Linked DNA regions of Homo sapiens: region 1 is linked to region 2. A link means that fine-mapping ties the variant in region 2 to the plasma level of a protein whose gene starts in the linked region. Region 2 holds a variant in brackets. A gene starts in the other region. All regions are shown on their forward strands.

Region 1 (9,060 bases), not on the chromosome of region 2:
TCAGTCTTCAGAAACACCCTTCCTGAGCGTGAGGTGCTGGGCTGTAAAATATACATACATTCTTTAAAAAGGCAAATGCTTGATGATACAGTGCTATTTGGACTTCATTTTTTTGAACCTTTGCAATGCCCTTTCTCAACAAAACAAAACAAAATTTGACTTGGATTCTTAGATAATGGAATTGGCTGCAGGAAGCATTTGTTTTATCACCCCTTGAATGTTAACAATAACCCTGAGAGAGCTATCTGTACTGAGCATGAAGGAAATAATATATACAGTGGTCCATTTCCAAGACAAAGTGCCTTGAATTGGTTTAGGTCAGCAAACTACAGAAGAAACAGGATACACTAGGCCCCTGCTTGGATAGCCAATGCCTGCTTGTCGCCTCCCCACCCTCCACCCTACCCCACTGCCTTAGTTGCCCTCACCCAAACCAAAGGAGTTTAGTCTAAGATGAAAGTTTACTAGCTTGCAAAATAGCTCACTTTGTCTGTTCTTATCAGCCTGCCCAGATACTTAGGTCATAAGTCAAGTACTTGAAGAGCCCTTGAGCTAACTAGGATTGCAATGTATTATGGCTGCAACAAAATGCAGCAGAACAATCCTAAAGAAAATGCCTAAAACCCCTACCCAACAACCAATAGGCAATGTCCAGGAAGACTGTGACCCCATAGTACTCAGCCTATGAGGAACCAAGGGAGGGACCTGCACACTAGGGGATAAATTGCTTTTGAAACTGTACTGGGTGTGCCTGCCCATCAGACACCCGATCTTGCAAGATTGTCATTAAAGTCTCGCTTCCACTGTTCTCTGGGTCTCTGAGCCCAAACTTTGGGTTTGGACCAGTGAGTTTGTTTCTCACAGCATGACCTACTCTCCACCATGATGTGCAGCATTGCAGTGAGCAGAGAACAGCCTCCCTTCCCACTCACCCACCTGCCTCTTGGTTAGACATAAGTTCTCTTGTAACTTCTTTTGCTTCATTTATTTTAAATAAGAATAATAAAGTTTTAGTCTTTAATTTAAAAAAAGAAGATAGGCTAAAAATTAATATGTGTTCAGCTTAAACTAGAAAATTTTAAAAAACAACACACTCTAAGTACAAAGAAAGAAATAATAAAGATGAAATAAATTTAAAAATATTAAACAAAGATACAGAGGAGTTCCACAAAGCCAAAAGTTAGCTCTTGGGGAAGAGAAGTAATAAAACTTAGGCATTTCTGGAGATGCTGACCAAGAAAAAAAGGAAAATTTACAAATTAATTATTATGAGTGAAATGGAGGCTATCGCTGCAAATGCTAAGAAGATGTGAATAATGTTATACCAGTAACACTGAAAACTTAGGTGAAATGTGATGATTCCTTTAGAAAGATGCCAAAACTGCCTGCGAAAGAAGTAGAAAGCTTGATTAGAAATAGAATCAGCAGTTTAAAATATTTCACACAGAAAACAGAAATATTCCATCAAATATTCAAGAAATAGAAACTTCAAAACTTAAACCCATTTAGAAGATTTAAAGGCAGAAAATCTCCAACTCATTCTGTAAGGCTAATTTAATCTTGATAGTTTCTAAACAAGTACTATATTAGAAAGAACATTAGAAGCCAATCTTTTTGTGAATGTAGGAGCAAAGAACCTAAACACAATGTTAGCAAGTCAAATCCAGCAATGTATTTTAAAAGTATGCTTATTTGGGAATGCGGGAATGATTCAACGTTAGAACTTATCATATTAACAAATTAGTGGGCCGGCGCGGTGGCTCACGCCTGTAATCCCAGCACTTTGGAAGGTTGAGGCAGGTGGATTGCCTGAGGTCAGGAGTTCGAGACCAGTCTGGCCAACATGGTGAAACCCCGTCTCTACTAAAAATACAAAAGAATTAGCTGGGCATGCCAGCGTGTGCCTGTAATCCCAGCTACTTGGGAGGCTGAGGCAGGGGAATTGCTTGAACCAGGGAGGTGGAGGTTGCAGTGAGCCAAGATCATGCCACTGCACTCCAGCCTGGGTGACAGAGCGAAACTCCATCTCAAACAAAAAAGAAAATTAGTGGAGAAAAATAATAATATCATGTATAGATGAAGGAAATGCACAAAATAAAACTGAACATTCATTAATGATTTTTTAAAACTCTTAAACTAGAAATAGAAGAACATTTTCTTAATCTGGTAGACGACAACCTATACAATGTAAAATGCTAAAGGCCCTCATGGAGAGAAGACAGTCCATTAACAGCTACTCTAAATGGGACAATCTGTTCACACCAGTCTCCCCCTACCAGGACAGTCGACCAATTGCCAAGAACAGTATTACCTGTTTTACAGCTGCACTTCATGTGGTCCCAACAAGACTATCACTACAGTGCAAGATGACATCTGTTGGATCATCCATCGGGAAGCTAAAAGAGACCACACAATGGCCCATGTGGCAGGCAGGAATCATAAATGCCAAGTTCTCTTGGGGAAGAGTAGGGTTTCCCTCACATTTTTTCTTGTTTGTAGTAGATTTTGGAAAATGGAAGGCTAGCCATGAGCAGGGAAGATCTGACTTTTTTGGTGAGTTACAGGAAAAATATTTGGTAGAGAAAGCAGTGATTTGTGGTTATAGATTTCAGGGAACCAAAGGAAGAAATCAGAGCAGTGGCTAAGATGTTTTGTTTGATATTATTAACAAATGACCTATGAGTGATGGTATCTTAGGTTGAATTCTTCCAAAACAAATTCTAAAGAATGATTTGAGTGCAAGTAGTTTATTTAGGAGGTGACACCAGGAAAAACCAGTAGAGGAGTGGGGCAGTGAGACAGGGAAGGGAGGAAAGCCAGTGTGGGTTACCGCTCTGGACCACTGTGTTCAATGCCAAGTAGACATGCCGGAGAGTTGTCCTGAGTGGAAAGGGAGCCAGGGTCTTTGCACCTGACATGGGCTGAAACTGCTCTCAGAAGCATTACCTCCTGGCACTTCCTCTGCCAAAAGAAGGCCCTGCTGTGGAGAGTCACGGGAGCACACAGTGGGACAGACACAGGCAGGAGGCCTGGCAGCCTCTGCTACAGAGACACTGCACAGTCCATGTTCTGTTCCTTCACTGAGCAGACAGCTTTGCAGCTGTCCTCCTGGACTTTTGTGAGTAGGTGGACACATGTGAGCAAGCCACACACAATAGAGGGCTTCCTCCACTATTACTCAAGTTAGGTAAATTGAGGCAGCTTGGTAACTCACCAACCTCTTCTAAAACATTCTCACCCCCAAAAAGCAGGGCCAGGCACTCCCCCCTGCTGTCAGAACACTTGCATACATGTTCTGCTGGAGCCCATGTCTCAGTTATCTGCTCCTGCATTCCTAGGGCGGGTGCCAATTGGCTTCCTTCACCTTCTGCCTGCAGGGCTGAGCTGCTTCTGGCTGACAAGTGAAAACATTAGAAGCACCCTCATCAATCCATCCATTTCTTCAAGAAATATTTTATATGTTGACTTCATTTGAGTTTACCCAAAGGCAGTTTGAGTCAAGAGCTTAGATGCAGGTAGTTGACCTGGGAGGTGATTCCCAGAAGCAGGAGAGAGAGAGAGAGAGAGAACCGAGAAAGATCGGAGGACCAACCCAAGGGGGCATTACTGAGCTGATCACCACTAAGGGTCACTGAGGCTCACTTCTACTGAGGACTCAGAATTGGTCCTCTGGGGACAGAAGGCTGAGGTATATATCCCCAGTTAATTAAGGGTTGCTGTGAAGGAGGTTCACTGTGCATTGGTTACCAACATGTCTGTGTCCAGTGAGAGAGAACGCATTCATACTCAATAAGTTATATGAAGCAAATTTATTACTTACAGACAGGCAGCAAGGGACAAGAGGAGCATTCATTGCAAGCTGGTTGCCTGAGGCTCAGGAAATCTGCTCAGGGCAAATGGAGTCTCAACTGGGCATGCCCCACTTGCACCACAGACGAGGAATGCCAGAGAGCAGCCTGCCCTGGGTTTAACATCCCAGGGTAATGTGATTTGCTGGGCAGTGTTGAAGGACATCCTATTTTCAGCAGGAGACTGGAACTGACCTTGGGCTGTTCAGCCAGTTCTCCCTTATCTCAAGATGCTGCAATCCTAGCACATTCTGCAGTTATTCCTGAGAACTACATGGTAAAAAGGGGACTGGGTCTGTCCAAGGCCACCCAAACTGCCCTGCAGTTGCCCCGGGGATGTTAAATTTCCCTGAATTCCAGGCTGCGCCTGCTCCCAAGGCTTCCGGAGAAAGTCGTAAGATAAGCCCTAAAGAGGACAGCAACGAGATGCTTGAGGTGGCAGCATTCAGGGGAACTCTCCACAACAATCAGAGAGCTGACGGCAGAGGCAGGCAAGGGACATTAGCACCAATAATGTATGCTACAGGCACCTACCATGTTCTAGACAGAGTGCCAGACATGCAGCAGTGAGCAGGACAGACCAACTTATTTGTTCTCATGGAGCTTCATTTCAGTAGTGGAACAAAGAATTTACCAATAAACAAGTCAGCAAACAAGTAATGACGGGTGTTGTGTCTTTGCAAAAATTATGACAATAAGAAAAATATGACATAGGAAAATTACAACAGTGAAAGAAAGCTGGCCTAACCGACTCCATCTTCTAACCTCCAATCTGCCTTTGCACATTCCTGGGCATAGGCCAAACAAATCTGTGGAGAAACTTAGTTTATAATTTCACTTTAAACCAAATATAACAGCCCCCCCCTGAAACAAACCTCCTTCTTGCTTGGGGACCAGACCACCTTTGTGAAACTAACAAATTAGCCACAAGATTAAAATTTATGGGCCGGGCGCGATGGCTCACACCTGTAATCCCAGCACTTTGGGAGGCCAGGGTGGGCAGATCACCTGAGGTCAGTAGTTCAAGACCAGCCTGGCCAACATGGTGAAACCCTGTCTCTACTAAAAATATAAAAATTAGCCGGGCGTGGTGGCAGGTGCCTGTAATCCCAGCTACTCAGGAGGCTGAGGCAGGATAATTGCTTGAACCCGGGAGGCAGAGGTTGCAGCGAGCCGAGATCACACCATTGCACTCCAGCCTGGGGGACAAGAGCAAGACTTCATCTCAAAAAAAAAAAAAAAAAAAAATTATGGCTTAGGAGTCATGCAGCCCGAAGCCACAAGATTCCTAACCTCCATAATTGCTCCAATAGATAATATTACTATTATATAACATAAGATTGGTGTTCAAGGTATTTTTCAGACCCCACATTGTGATGGACTAGCCACCCAGACTGGTAAACTGGCTATCTCGTCTTGTGACCCCAACCCAGGAACTAACCCAGAGCAAGACGAAAGCTTCATCTCTTCAGGATTTCATCCCTAACCCAACCAATCAGCACTCACCATTCCCTAGCCCCCTGACTGCTAAACTATCTTTTAAAAACCCTAGCCTCCAGACTGGCACAATCCCAGCACTTTGGGAGGCCAAGGAGGGCAAATCACTTGAGAGCAGGAGTTCGAGACCAGCCTGGCCAACACGGTGAAACCCCGTCTCTACTAAAAATACAAATAATTAGCTGGGCATGGTGGTGTGCGCTTGTAATCCCAGCTACTTGTAAGGCTGAGGCATGAGAATCGCTTGAACAGGAGGTGGAGGTTGCAGTAAGCCTAGACTGCACCACTGCACTCCAGCCTGGACAACAAAGCAAGACACTGTCTCAAAAACAAACCCCCCCCAAAAAATTCCTTAGACTCCGAATTTGAGGAGAGGCTGATTTGAGGAGTAATAAGCCTCTGCTCTCCTGGTTAGCCAGCTCTATGTGTATCGAACTCTTTATTGCAATTCCCATCTTGAAAAATTGGCTCTATCTGGGCGACAGGCAAGAAGAAGCTGTTGGGTGGTTACAGTGTGATGAGTGCTATGAAGGAAATAACATAAAAGGTGACAGAGAATAACTAGAGGAGGCCATTCTAGATAAAATGGTCTGAGGAGGTGACATTTGAGCTGAGTATTAAACATTGAGAAACAATCTACGAAGGGAAGATGTGGTGCAAGACCTTTCCAAGCAGTGTATAATACACACAAAAGCCCATGCCAGCAAAAAGATTTTACTTTCACAAATTCTAGAAACTCTAAGAGTAAAAAGTGGTGAAAAGAAAGGAAGTGATAACACATGTTGCCAAGTGCAGCAGGCAGAAACAGGGCCATCACCACTTCACGACAGGATCTCAAAATACTAGGAAGTGTAAATTAAAACCATGAGATATAGTTTTGTCATTATTGGATTGGGAAAGATCCAAAAGTTTGGAAAGACCCCACTGGTGAAGATGTGTGGAAACCCACAGTCTTACACATTATTTGCCAGAGTGTAAATTAGTACAGTGTCTAAGGGGGGCAATTTAGCCACGTTTGGCTAATATATTATTTTAAAGGACATATCCCACCATAGCCAATTCCACCTCTAAGAATATTTCTGACAGATATACCCACATGCATGCACAAAGACAATCCACGGGATCCAGTCACATTATTCCTAACCCAAAGCAACTGGGAAACACTTCAAGGTCCATCAGTGAAGGCCCGCATAGGCTAACCTCTGTAATAACCAAATCTCAGTGGCAGTGTCCAACCAGGTGCTTGTGGGCGACCTTCCAACAGGCACCGCATTGCCCGGCTGCCAGGCCGGGCCTGTGTACTGTCCCCGCATCCCATACAGCTAGCACTTATTCACCCTCAAAAGCGTCCCATCCTGAAAATAAACTCTTGCCCACTTGGTGCTTCAGGAACCTGGGCTTCTTCCACTAATAGCTCTCCCAGATGCCCCAGTGCGCAGGTGGGGCCGTCCTCTAGGACCAGGCCTGGCTGGGGCGCACCCACACCTCCTTGGCCAGACGCCATGGGCCGGGAAGGGGCTCTGGCCCTTGCGGGAATGAGGGCGCCTAGCATAGGTGTGCAAGTGGGCAGCCCCCACCGTGGGGTCCTTAAGTAAGCTGGAGCCTGTGAGCCAGGACAGTCAGGAGTTGCAACCTTGGTGATTTCTAGGAAGACAGAAAATGGGGTCAAGGGCCGGGTGTGGTGGCTTATGCCTATAGACCCAGCACTTTGGGAGGCCGAGGCAGGCGGATCACCTTAGGTCAGGAGTTCGAGACCAGCCTGACCAACAGGGCGAAACCTCGTCACTACTAAAGGTACAAAAATTAGCCAGGCGTGGTGGCGCACACCTGTAATCCCAGCTACTCAGGAAGCTGAGGCAACAGAATCGCTTGAACCCGGGAGGCAGAGGTTGCAGTGAGCTGAGACCACATCACTGCACTCCAGCCTGGGTGAGAACCTGTTAAAAAAAAAAATAAGAAAATGGGGTCAAGAAACGGTGGGAGGAGGGCAGATTTCATGAACCTGCCTGCTATGATGTGGCTGCATTTCCATCATGCATTGTCCTAAAAAAAGAAAAAGAAAAAAATAAAATGTAGACGTGGAGGGATGGGGGAAATTGCACAGGCCGGTCCAGGCTGTGAGGCTGCCCCCTACCAGGGACGACGAGGGCCAGCTCCGCCGCGCCGTAAGGAAACTGGCCAAGGGAACCCCTTGAATCTGGCGAGGGCCCGCCATGAGACGCTCGGGGAACCAGACTGCCGAGCCCCCCTCTCTGGGCCGACGCCAGCCCGGCTGTGGACTGGAGAAAACCGCAAGGCCACCTGCAGAAAGAAAAGAAGGCCATCGCGCCTACGCAGCTGAGCACCCATACTCCGCCCGCGCCTGCGCAACTGGGTCCCCCGACCCCCACCTCCTCTCCCGCCTGCGCATGCGCGGCTGGGTGCGCCCCCCCGCCCAGCCTGTGACGCCACGTGCATGGGGCGGAGCCCAGGCCCTAGGGAATCGTGGGGTCGTATCCCGCGGGTGGAGGCCGGGGTGGCGCCGGCCGGGGCGGGGGAGCCCAAAAGACCGGCTGCCGCCTGCTCCCCGGAAAAGGGCACTCGTCTCCGTGGGTGTGGCGGAGCGCGCGGTGCATGGTAAGCGGCGGGCCGGGGCGCTGGCGGGGGCGGCCGGGGATCACCGACTGTAGGCGGGCCTCCCCCACGCGGGCGCGCTGCGCTCCGGAGGACGGCCTCGGGGTCACTCGCACCCCGGGTCCCACCTCCTGCTGCCTTCCTGTCCAGGCTCCATTAGGGCTCCCTGGATGTCTGGGCTCCGCTGACCGGTGGGGGGCAAGTCCAGTGTTTTGGGCCACAGGGCGGGCCAAATAGCAGGGGCCTGTAGCCCCAGGGGGCCCCAGCCCTGCTGCGTTCATTCATTCAGCCCGCTTTTGCGGACCCGCCCCCAGTCTGCGTCAGGGACAGACCCCTCCGCCCTGGATGAGCCCGGCGGGGAAGCTTCGCGTAGCAGTTTCTGGGAAACAGGTAGGATCAGGCCGCTCGGACAGGACTGAGGGTGTAAGGACGATTCACCCTGGCATTGGGGTGGTGTCCCGAGGAGCTCATAGGTGGTCAGGGCGGTTCTGCCCGAGCTGACCTGTGAGCCGCGAATGCCCTGGACCGAGGGAGGGAGAGCCCCCTAGGTGGACAGACTAGACTCCTTCAGTGGAAAACATTCAACAGCCAGGAGAGCGTGGAAGAGGAAGGAGAGATGGGAGGGCCCAGGGGAGCGTGGAAGGGAGGGTGTTTTTATTATAAGTGCACCTGTAAGTGCAAAGTGCAAAGGAAGCAGCCGCCGGGAAGTGCCTGGGCAGCTCTGGGTGTCCCTCCAGGCACCTGTATTCCAGCCTTACCTGCGCGAAGCCACACATCCCACGTCACACAGGATACGGGGAAGTCAGCCATAGCCTGCAGGCGGGGAATCTGAAACCTCGCGCAGGAGTTCCTTGGGAGAGGTGGATTACAAGGACTCTTCCTCCCACCCGCTGTGCAAGAGCCATGGGCGGCCGGTAGTCATTTTTGAAGGACCTGGCAAGCACTGTACAAATCTCAAAATTGCTTTTTGTCCCCCTCCCCTTGCCTTGGAGAGAGTGGCTGGCTAGTGTGTGTGTCGTCTGCCTCCTGAAGGTTCGGGTAAAGGACCAGGGAGGTGGGCAGCCCTTTGTGTCAGGAGATCTGGAAGCGCCTCCCCTCCCAC
Region 2 (9,288 bases):
TATTATTACATATTTTTTGAGACAAAGTCTCTTTCTGTCTCCCAGGCTGGAGTGCAGTGGCTTGATCTGGGCTCACCGCAACCTCTGCCTCCAGGGTTCAAGTGATTCTTTTCCCTCAGCCTCCTGAGTAGCTGGGACTGCAGGTGCATGCCACCACGCCCGACTTATTTTTGTATTTTTAGTAGAGATGGGGTTTCACCATTTTGGCCAGGCTGGTCTCAAACTCCTAACCTCAAGTGATCCTCCTGCCTTGGTCTCCCAAAGTGCTGGGATTACAGGCATGAGCCACTGTGCCCAGCAAGATATTAATTTTTAAGTAAAAGAATTATGAAAGAAACCCCTCTCTCAAAAGAATCCTCCTCTCTTTGTCCTTGAGCAGGGAAGCAAACAATTACCTTCTGAACTTTTTGTCATTATCATAGCCACTTTCAATTCTTGTCCAATTCATATCAGATATAAAAAGAAAAACAACTGTGGCCAGGAGTGGTGGCTCATGCCTGTAATTGCAGCACTTTGGGAGGCCGAGGCGGGTGGATCATCTGAGGTCAGGATTTTGAGACCAGCCCAGGCAACACAGAGAAACCCCGATTCTACTGAAAATACAAAAATTAGCCAGGCATGGTGGTGGGCGCCTATAGTCCCAGCTACTCGGGAAGCTGAAGGGGGAGAATCGCTTGAACCTGGGAGGCAGAGTTTGCAGTGAGCCAAGATCACGCCACTGCACTCCAACCTGGACAACAGAAGGAGACTCTGTATCAAAAAACAAACAAACAAACAAAAAAACAAACAAAAAAACCTGACAAAATCTTTTCCTCCTTTTGTAATGTATTCACTGTGTGGAGAGATAAATCAATGAGATCTTTGTGAATGGGAGTATCATACTCAGTTTGTCTGCAGATAATGACAACTAAAACATGAACTGCACCTTGTAGGAATACCCTATGTAGAATTGTTGAAGTAAATAGAGATTTATGATTAGCTAAACTGAGAAAGTCAGATCATATGAGTTCCTATATTCATGAGGTAATTTAGAAACTATTCATAAGGGGAAGGGAGAAAAAAAACCTGACCTCTTAAAACTTACAAGAATTTCTCACATTGTCATAATGGAAATTCCCAAATTTCTCAAATGTGCTTTTTTTCTTCATCTCTGGTAGCATGAAAGCATCTGCCAAAAAATATGAAACTTAAGATGTATTTAATGCCATTGCCCAAACTTGTAATAACTTGTAATAATCAGATTATCCTTAAAACAGTCAAGTGTCATTCCCACAAAGGGCACTGGTGCTCTCTCCCTTTGAGTAATGAAAAATTTTAAACCTTTGCTTCTTCCTTCTGATGTCTGTACTCACAGGGTTTACAGTACCTTTTATGAGGTGCTACTATGCTGCTGGTATGTACAAATGTATAGCATCAGATTCTATAGGTAATAGTGTCAAACTACTATCAAGCATGCATCTATCTGTACACATGTTTTCAATAAACATGTATTAACCACTTATTTTGTGCTGGTGCTTGGCACTGGAAATAGAAATATGTAAGATTCAATTCCTGCTCACAACATTTAGAGTCTAGAGTCTATCCACTAGGTTGACAAGTTAACATTGTGAAATCTGTAATATAAAGAGCCTGAGGATACAGAGAAGTGACACAGAGGTCACACTTTGGGGCTGTTAGGAAGGGCTTCCTGAAGAAGGCCATTGCTGAGGAGAATACAATCCACAAGCATTTATTAAGTGCCTATGTCAAGCCCAGCTCCAAGCCTGGGTATACAGTAGTGAATAAAGGAGAAAGATATTCCTACCTGCATGAAGCTTACATTCTAGGAGAATAACGTGAAGAAAGAACAGAAGCTTGCCAGATGAATGATCCACAAAGAAATGAACAGTGTATCTTTGGAGGTTAGTTATATATAAGTAAGTATAGCTCAGAAAAGTCTCCAGCTCGCTGTGTAATCTCTGTCTTATCCAAAACTCACTGAGAACATGTTGAAGTGTCCCCAGTTTCTATAAAGGAGTGCTTCCCTCCACACCAGCGAACAGGGCCTAGAATCCATTCACAGGTGAGGGGCCTCTGCCATGAAAAAGACATGTGCAGGCGCATATGTGCACTCAATCACAGAGACACACATGCACATGCACACACACAGGGTGAGCCATTCACATGGTGACCACTGACACTGCACTGGCTAGTCCCAGTCTTGACATCCCCATTGTAACAATGCTCAATGCCAGAAGCAGGAATAGAAGGAAGAGATTCTACCTGGTCCCTACCCACAAGAGCTCGTTTTAAGTTTCTTCCTGATCACAAAAGGGAGAGTAGATGTTGTAATATTCATGGTGCTTTTTAAAGAGAGAGTACACACTAGTATGTGTGCCCCTTTTGTTCAGAGCAATGGTTATGCACTCTCACTCAAATAAACTTAAGTGTTTCAAAGGACTCTTGGATGGAGGATGTAACATCTACTTGGGTGTAATGATCCCTATGATCTTGCAATGTAAAAATACAGTATCTTGATTTTTTTCAAAAGATATAAAGATGTGGGCGGGCTGTGGTGGTTCACACCCATAATCCCACAAGTTTGAGAGGACAAGGTAAGAGGATTGCTTGAGCTCATAAGGTCAAGGCCAGCCTGAGAAACACAGTGAGATGCTGTCTCTATTTAAAAAAAAAAAATATATATATATAAAGGTGTGGGTGTGAATGCATTCCCTCCCTCCCTCCCTCCCTCCTTCCCTCCCTCCCCCCCTTTCTTCCTTCCTATTTCTTTATTGAACACATGCTATATATCCAGTGTAAAAAAATTAGACATACAGATATTTTTATAAATGAAAATAAAAGGAGAATCATATGGTTCCAGATGACATTGCTAATAATTTGGTATATCATTTTACAGATTCATTCTTCATGCTTATTTTTCATAAATTAATACACATGCATTTTATTTTACAAAGTAAGAATAATACTATACATTGGGGTCCCCAACCCCTGAACCATGGACCAGTACCACCTGTGGCCCATTAGGAACCAGGCTGCACAGCAGGAGGTGAGCAGCAGGTGAGCAAGCAAAGCTTCATCTGCATTTACAGCCACTCCCCATTGCTCATATTACCACCTGAGCCACGCCTCCTGTCAGATCAGTGGCAGCATTAGATTCTCATAGGAGCATGAACCCTATTGTGAACTGTGCATACCAGGGATCTAGGTTGTGGGCTCCTTATGAGAATCTAATGTCTGATGATCTGTCACTATCTCCCATCGCCTCCAGATGGGACTGTCTAGTTGCAGGTGACCAAGCTCAGGGTTCCCACTGATTTTACATTATGGTGAGTTATATAATCATTTTATTATATATTACAATATAATAATAATAGAAATAAAGTACACAATAACTAATGTGCTTGTCTCATCCCAAAACTACCCCCCAGCCCCCAGCCAAGTAGGTTTTTAAGAAAAAGAAAAGGTAATTCCTAACTTGCTTCCCAAGAATTTATATTCAAATAACATAAGCTATTGATTGGCCGTACATTGTTCTTTGCATCACAAATTCCAGGAATTCAATGATAATGGGTAAGGCAGCTAGTCAGGAACAAAATATCTTTAAACAATTGTCCTCAGGCATGGGCATGGCAGGGCATGGCTGAAGTCCTCTACTCATGTCTTTCTGGCCTGCTGAATTTTACATACTTCCCATACCACAGGGTGCTCTGAGTTATTTTTCTTTTCTCAGAGGCCTAGGAAATGAAGTCCCTGCCTGAGAAGCCTCTTCCCAGCAAGAACTACACAGTAGAAAAGTAGCATAAATCTCTTATCCCAGGTGAACATCTCATCATTTCTGCCTCGACATATGTTTTCTGCTTCTACAATACAACTTAGAAAAGTAGTATGGTTGTCAGACCGGGCACAGTGGCTCATGCCTGTAATCCCAGCATTTTGGGAGGCCGAGATGGTCGAATCACCAGGTCAGGAGTTTCAGACCAGCCTGACCAACATGGTGAAACTCGGTCTCTACTAAAAATACAAAAATTAGCCAGGCATGGTGGCATATGACTGTAATCCCAGCTACTCAGGAGGCTGAGGCGGCATAATCGCTTGAACCCAGGAGGCAGAGGTTGCAGTGAGCCGAGATCACACCATTGCACTCCAGCCTGGGCGACAGAGCCAGACTCCATCTCAAAAAAAAAAAAAAAAAAGGAGTATGGTTGTCATAGTGAAATGGGATTGTTCCCTTGACCTTGACCCCCGTCATGAGTGGGAACAGGAATGGCTCTTTTTACTCAGCCCACCGCTGGCCACTCCTCACGAGAGGTAGCATGTGAGCAAGTGAATGTGGGAACCGGAGGGAATGAATGCTGGAACCACCCAGTCACTCCTCTCTGGTGGGAGCAGGCTCTGTGCAGTGTTCAAGAACCCAGGTTCTTGTTCGGCATCCAGGAAGAATCAGGTCACATGAATAGATTGAAGGGTAGTGTATGCAGAGGATTTTATTGGGTGATGGATGTGGCTCTCAGTGGGATGGGAGTTGGAAAGGGGATGGTGTGGGAAGAAGGGATCTTTCCTTGAAGCCGCACCATCTGAAGTTAGCTGTGTCTATCCGTAGTTTCCAATGCTCAGTTGCTGCTTCTCTGCTTGCCATTCAGCCGCTTGTATCCCCCACGCTTAGCTATTTTTTTTTTTTTTTTTTTTTTTTTGCTTTGCCGGCTGATGTTCTTTGTGGGCACAGCATAGGGGCAGGGCAGACCAAAAAGGCAGCGTTTGGGTGGAAAAATGGAGTCAGCTGTTTTCACTTAGGGCCAGGCTTAGAGTGGGTTTAGCTGGGACCCCAGGCATTCTGTATCAATAAGGTGACTCAGTGTTATGAGCTACATATTTGTGTCCCCTTCAAAGTCATTTGTTGAAAGCTTAAACCCCAACAGGGTCAGTTGCAGTGGCTCATGCCTGTAATCCCAGCACTTTGGGAGGCC[G/A]AGGCAGGTGGATCACTTGATGTCAGGAGTTTGAGACCAGCCTGGCCAACATAGTGAAACCCCATCTATACTAAAAACACAAAAATTAGCTGGGCTTCGTGGCATGCACCTGCAGTCTCAGTTACTTGGGAGGCTGAGGCAGGAGAATTGCTTGAACCCAGGAGGCAGAGATTGCAATGAGCTGAGATCACTCCATTGCACTCCAGCCTGGGTGACAGAGAAAGACTCCATCTCAAAAAAAAAAAAAAAAAGAAAGAAAAAAGAAAAAAAAAAAAAGAAAAGAGAAAAAGAAAACCACAATGGGATGCTAATAGAATGTGGAGGCTTTGGGAGGTAATTAGATCATAAGGGTGGAGCCCTCATGATGGGATTGATGCCCTTATTAGAAGTCATGAAATGTGCTGGCTTCCTCTCTCTTTATACTCTCCACCCTGGGAGGACACAGCAAGATGATGCAAATCAGGAAGCTGGGGTTCACCAGACATGGGATCTGCAAGCACCTTGATCTTGGACTTCCCAGCATCCACAACTGTGAGAAATATATGATTGTAATTGGAGCCACTCTATCTATGGTAATTTGTTATAGCTGCCCAAACTAAGACACTAATGAAGTGTGAAATTATATGAGATTGTATTTTTGGTTTTTGAGACAAGGTCTTACTCTGTTGCCCAGGCTGCAGTGCAGTTGGCGAGATCATGGCTAACTGCAGCTTCATCCCCCTGGGTTCAAGCAATCCTCCTACCTCAGGTCCAGCTATTACACTTGGCTAAATTTTTAAATTTTTTTGTAGATACAGGGGTCTCCCTATGTTGCCCAGGATGGGCTTGAACTTCTGAGCTCCAGTGATGCTCCCACCTTAGCCTTCCAAATTGTGAGAATTAGCCAGGCGCAGTGGCTCATGTCTGTAATCCTAGCACTTTGGGAAGCTGAGGTGGGCAGATGACTTGAGGTTGGGAGTTCGAGAACAGCCTGGCTAACATGGCAAAACCCTGAGGTCAGGAGTTGAAGACCAGCCTGACTAGCATGACGAAACCCCATCTCTAATAAAAATACAAAAATTAGCCAGGTGTGGTGGCACATGCCTGTAGCTTCAGCTACTCGAGAGGCTGAGGATTGCTTAAACCCAGGCAGCAGGGGTTGTTGTTAGCTGAGATCATGCCACTGCACTCCAGCCTGGGTGACAGAGTGAGACCCTGTGTGACACACACACACACACACACACACACACACACACACACACACACACACATTATGAGAATTACACCCCGAGACAGGCCTATTGAACTTTCTTCAGGGCTCACCAAATGTCACCGGACAAATAAGAAGGGTTCTCTGAGTTAGGCATGCTGGACTTCCATCAGCAATTCCTTCTGAGATCCCTTCCACATATACAAACACACACAAAGATATGACAGACAGAAGGCCTTCCAAATCAGATCCCTAACCAAGAATTCCAAGAGTATCCCTTCCAAACTATCCTATTCTCCATCTGAGAAATCTCCCTGAAATCTTCCTCATCAAGGAGAAGTCTCCAGAATCAGGAATCTTCCTATTAGTTAGGGAGAGCCAAGTGAGACCTCCCAGGAGCCAAACAAAACAGACAACCTATGATGGAGCTACAAACAGACACCCTGCCAAATTCATCTCTTTGGGTCAACCGTGTCCCACCAGTAGAGAGTACCAGAGTCAGCCCCCAGTCCAAGAGAACTAGGTGGCTGCTTGGGCTGGCCTCTGGATCCATTGCTGGAGGGGGGCTACTGAACCACAGGCAGGTAATTACAGGGCAATCCCAGACGAGCCCCAAATTTGTAACCGCCCAATGGGTTTGCCTTGTCCACTGCCTAGACAGAGCCAATTTATCAAGACAGGGGAATTGCAATAGAGAAAGAGTAATTCATGCAGAGCCAGCTGTGTGGGAGATGGAGTTGTATTATTACTCAGATCAGTCTCCCTGAGCATTCAGGGATCAGAGTTGTTTGTTGGTTTTTTTCTTTTTTTTGAGACAGAGTTTCGCTCTTATTGCCCAGGCTAGAGTGCAATGGTGCGATCTCAGCTTCCTCCAACCTCCGCCTCCCCGGTTGAAGCGATTCTCCTGCCTCAGCCTCCCAAGTAGCTGGGATTACAGGTGCCTGCCACCACACCCAGCTAATTTTTGTATTTTTAATAGAGACGGGGTTTCACCATGTTGGTCAGGCTGGTCTAGAGTTCCTGACCTTGTGATCCACCCGCCTTGGCCTCCCAAAGTGCTGGGATTACAGGCATGAGCCTCTGCGCCTGGCAAGGGATCAGAGTTTTTAAGAATAATTTGGTGAGTGGGGAAGGTCAGTGAGTCAAGAGTGCTGATTGGTTGGGTCAGAGATAAAATCACGGGAAGTTGAAATTGTCATCTTGTGCTGAGTCAGTTCCTGGATGGGGGCCGCGAGATCAGATGAGCCAATTTATCCATCTAGGGTGGTTCCAGCTGATCCATCAAGTGCAGGGTCTGCAAAATATCTCAAGCACTGATCTTAGTGATACAATGAAAGAGGCAGGAGGCAGAGAAATTCTAGGCAGACAGGGGCAGGTCTCTGGTGAAGCCCCACCCTCAAGCTGAAAAGCCTGAGACCACGGCTCAAAGTCAGAACTCATATCCCCGTTTTCCCGCTTGAATGTTGCCTTTTCCTGAATCACCTATGACCCCGCCCTACCCTAGCCTGTGCCTATAAATACCCCAGACTCACCTTCAGAAAGGAGAAGCAGCTGGACACTGGGGACTATGGCTGGACGTTGGAGAGAAGTGACTTGACTTCAGAGGGACAGTTTGATGGCATAACTTCAGAGAACAATCCGGCCAGAGACAGCTGACTTCAGGGGAAGATTACCTACCCACTCTATCTTTTTTTTCAGCTCCCCTTCCCGCTATAAGCCACTTTAATCCGTCATAAAATCCCCTGCATGACCATCCTTCAATTCGTTTATGTGACCTCGTTTCTCCTGGACTCTGGACAAGAGCTCAGGAGCCACAAGTGCGGATTCAAAAGGCTGTCTATTGGCCCTTAGCCTTTGCTGGCAGAGGGCAGCTGCCTACACGAAAGGGCAGCGGGCCCACTGAGCTGTTAACAAAGTTGCTGATGGATGGCAGAGCTAAAAGAGCACTGTAACACGCCCCCTGGGGCTTTGGAAGTTGCAGGTACCTCTGCCTGGACACTGCTGAGGGGCCTGCACAAACTTCACTGCTGCTGGTGCCCAAAAGCACTCACTCTGGCTCCTGCACCCATTCACCTGTGTGCTCCCTCCCGCAAGGGGTGGAACACAATGGGCCTGCGTGAGTGGAGTTTGATCCCACTGGTGCTGAAGCAGCCAGCCAATTCCAGCGCTTGTGCACTCCAATTCCTGCCTTGCTTGCTTGCGTGCTTCCTCCTGCAAGGAGTTGAGAGTGGTGGGCTAAGTAAACAAGGCACCCCTGTTGCAAGTCCCGTGAAGGGGTCAGGGAAATATCCTGCTTCATTAGGAACAGTGTAGGTAGGGTCAGAATCTTGGAGCCTCCAGCTGCATGATTCCTAAACCATAATTTCTAATCTTGTGGCTAATTTGTTAGTCCTACAAAGGCAGTCTAGTCCCCAGGCAAGAAGGGGGTTTGTTTTGGGAAAGGGCTGTTATCATTGTTATCATCTTTGTTTTTTTTTGTGATTGTTTTGTTTTTTGTTTGTTTGTTTGTTTTGAGACAGAGTCTCTCTCTGTCACCCAGGCTGGAGTGCAATGGCACAATCTCAGCTCACTGCAACCTCCACCTCCCGGGTTCAAGCAATTCTTCTGCCTCAGCCTCCTGAGTAGTTGGGATTACAGGCATCCATCACCATGCCTGACTAATTTTTGTATTTTTAGTAGAGACAGGGTTTTGCCATGTTGGTCAGGCTGGTCTCAAACTCCTGACCTCAGGTGATCCGCCTGCCTTGGCCTCCCAAAGTGCTAGGATTATAGGCGTGAGCCACCATGCCTGGCTTATCTTTGTTTTAAACCATAACTATAAGTAAGTTCCTCCCAAAGGTAGTTCAGCCTATGCCCAGGAATGAACAAGGACAGTTCGGAGGTTGGAAGCAAAATGGAGTTGGTTAGGTCAGCTCAGTTATAATTTTGCAATGGTGGTTTCAATGTTAACTTTAATCAGCTTGTTAAATTGGTGTCTACCATATTTCTCCTGCAAAGATCTTTTTTTCTCTTTCCATACTCAAGTCTTCAGAAGCAAATCACTTAGTCCACACTCCTTTTTATTATTTTTTTACATTTTATTTATTTATTTCAGACAGAGTTTCACTCTGTCACTTAGGCTGGAGTGCAGTGGTG

Direction of the effects. Positions count from the first base shown, and alleles are read on the strand shown. Strength reflects both the effect of a copy and how common the allele is.
As copies of A replace G in region 2, the plasma level of the protein whose gene starts at base 7,806 in region 1 goes up (weak association).

What was found. PIP is the posterior inclusion probability: the model's chance that the variant is causal. The UK Biobank Pharma Proteomics Project read protein levels with antibody pairs (Olink). The fine-mapping took linkage between variants from a reference panel, not from the people measured, so its PIPs are less certain.
Region 1: ENTPD6 starts here. The variant in region 2 is fine-mapped to the plasma level of the ENTPD6 protein (UK Biobank, PIP above 0.99).

Annotation. Positions count from the first base shown.
Region 1 is chr20:25,187,907-25,196,966 of GRCh38, forward strand. It overlaps ENTPD6 (ectonucleoside triphosphate diphosphohydrolase 6), which reads left to right and starts at 7,806. Exons shown (of 15, transcript NM_001247.5): 1 at 7,806-7,961. It overlaps LOC101926889 (a long non-coding RNA gene), which reads right to left and starts at 8,986. Exons shown (of 6, transcript NR_109994.1): 1 at 8,717-8,986; 2 at 2,312-2,396; 3 at 1-41. RefSeq lists enhancers at 7,262-7,501, 8,352-8,421, 8,802-8,951 and a silencer at 7,642-8,061.
Region 2 is chr12:101,858,794-101,868,081 of GRCh38, forward strand. No RefSeq gene overlaps it. Among named protein-coding and RNA genes, the nearest start is that of DRAM1, 14 kb to the right of the region's middle. RefSeq lists an enhancer at 1,036-1,205. The variant G/A (reference allele first, on the strand shown) is at 4,965.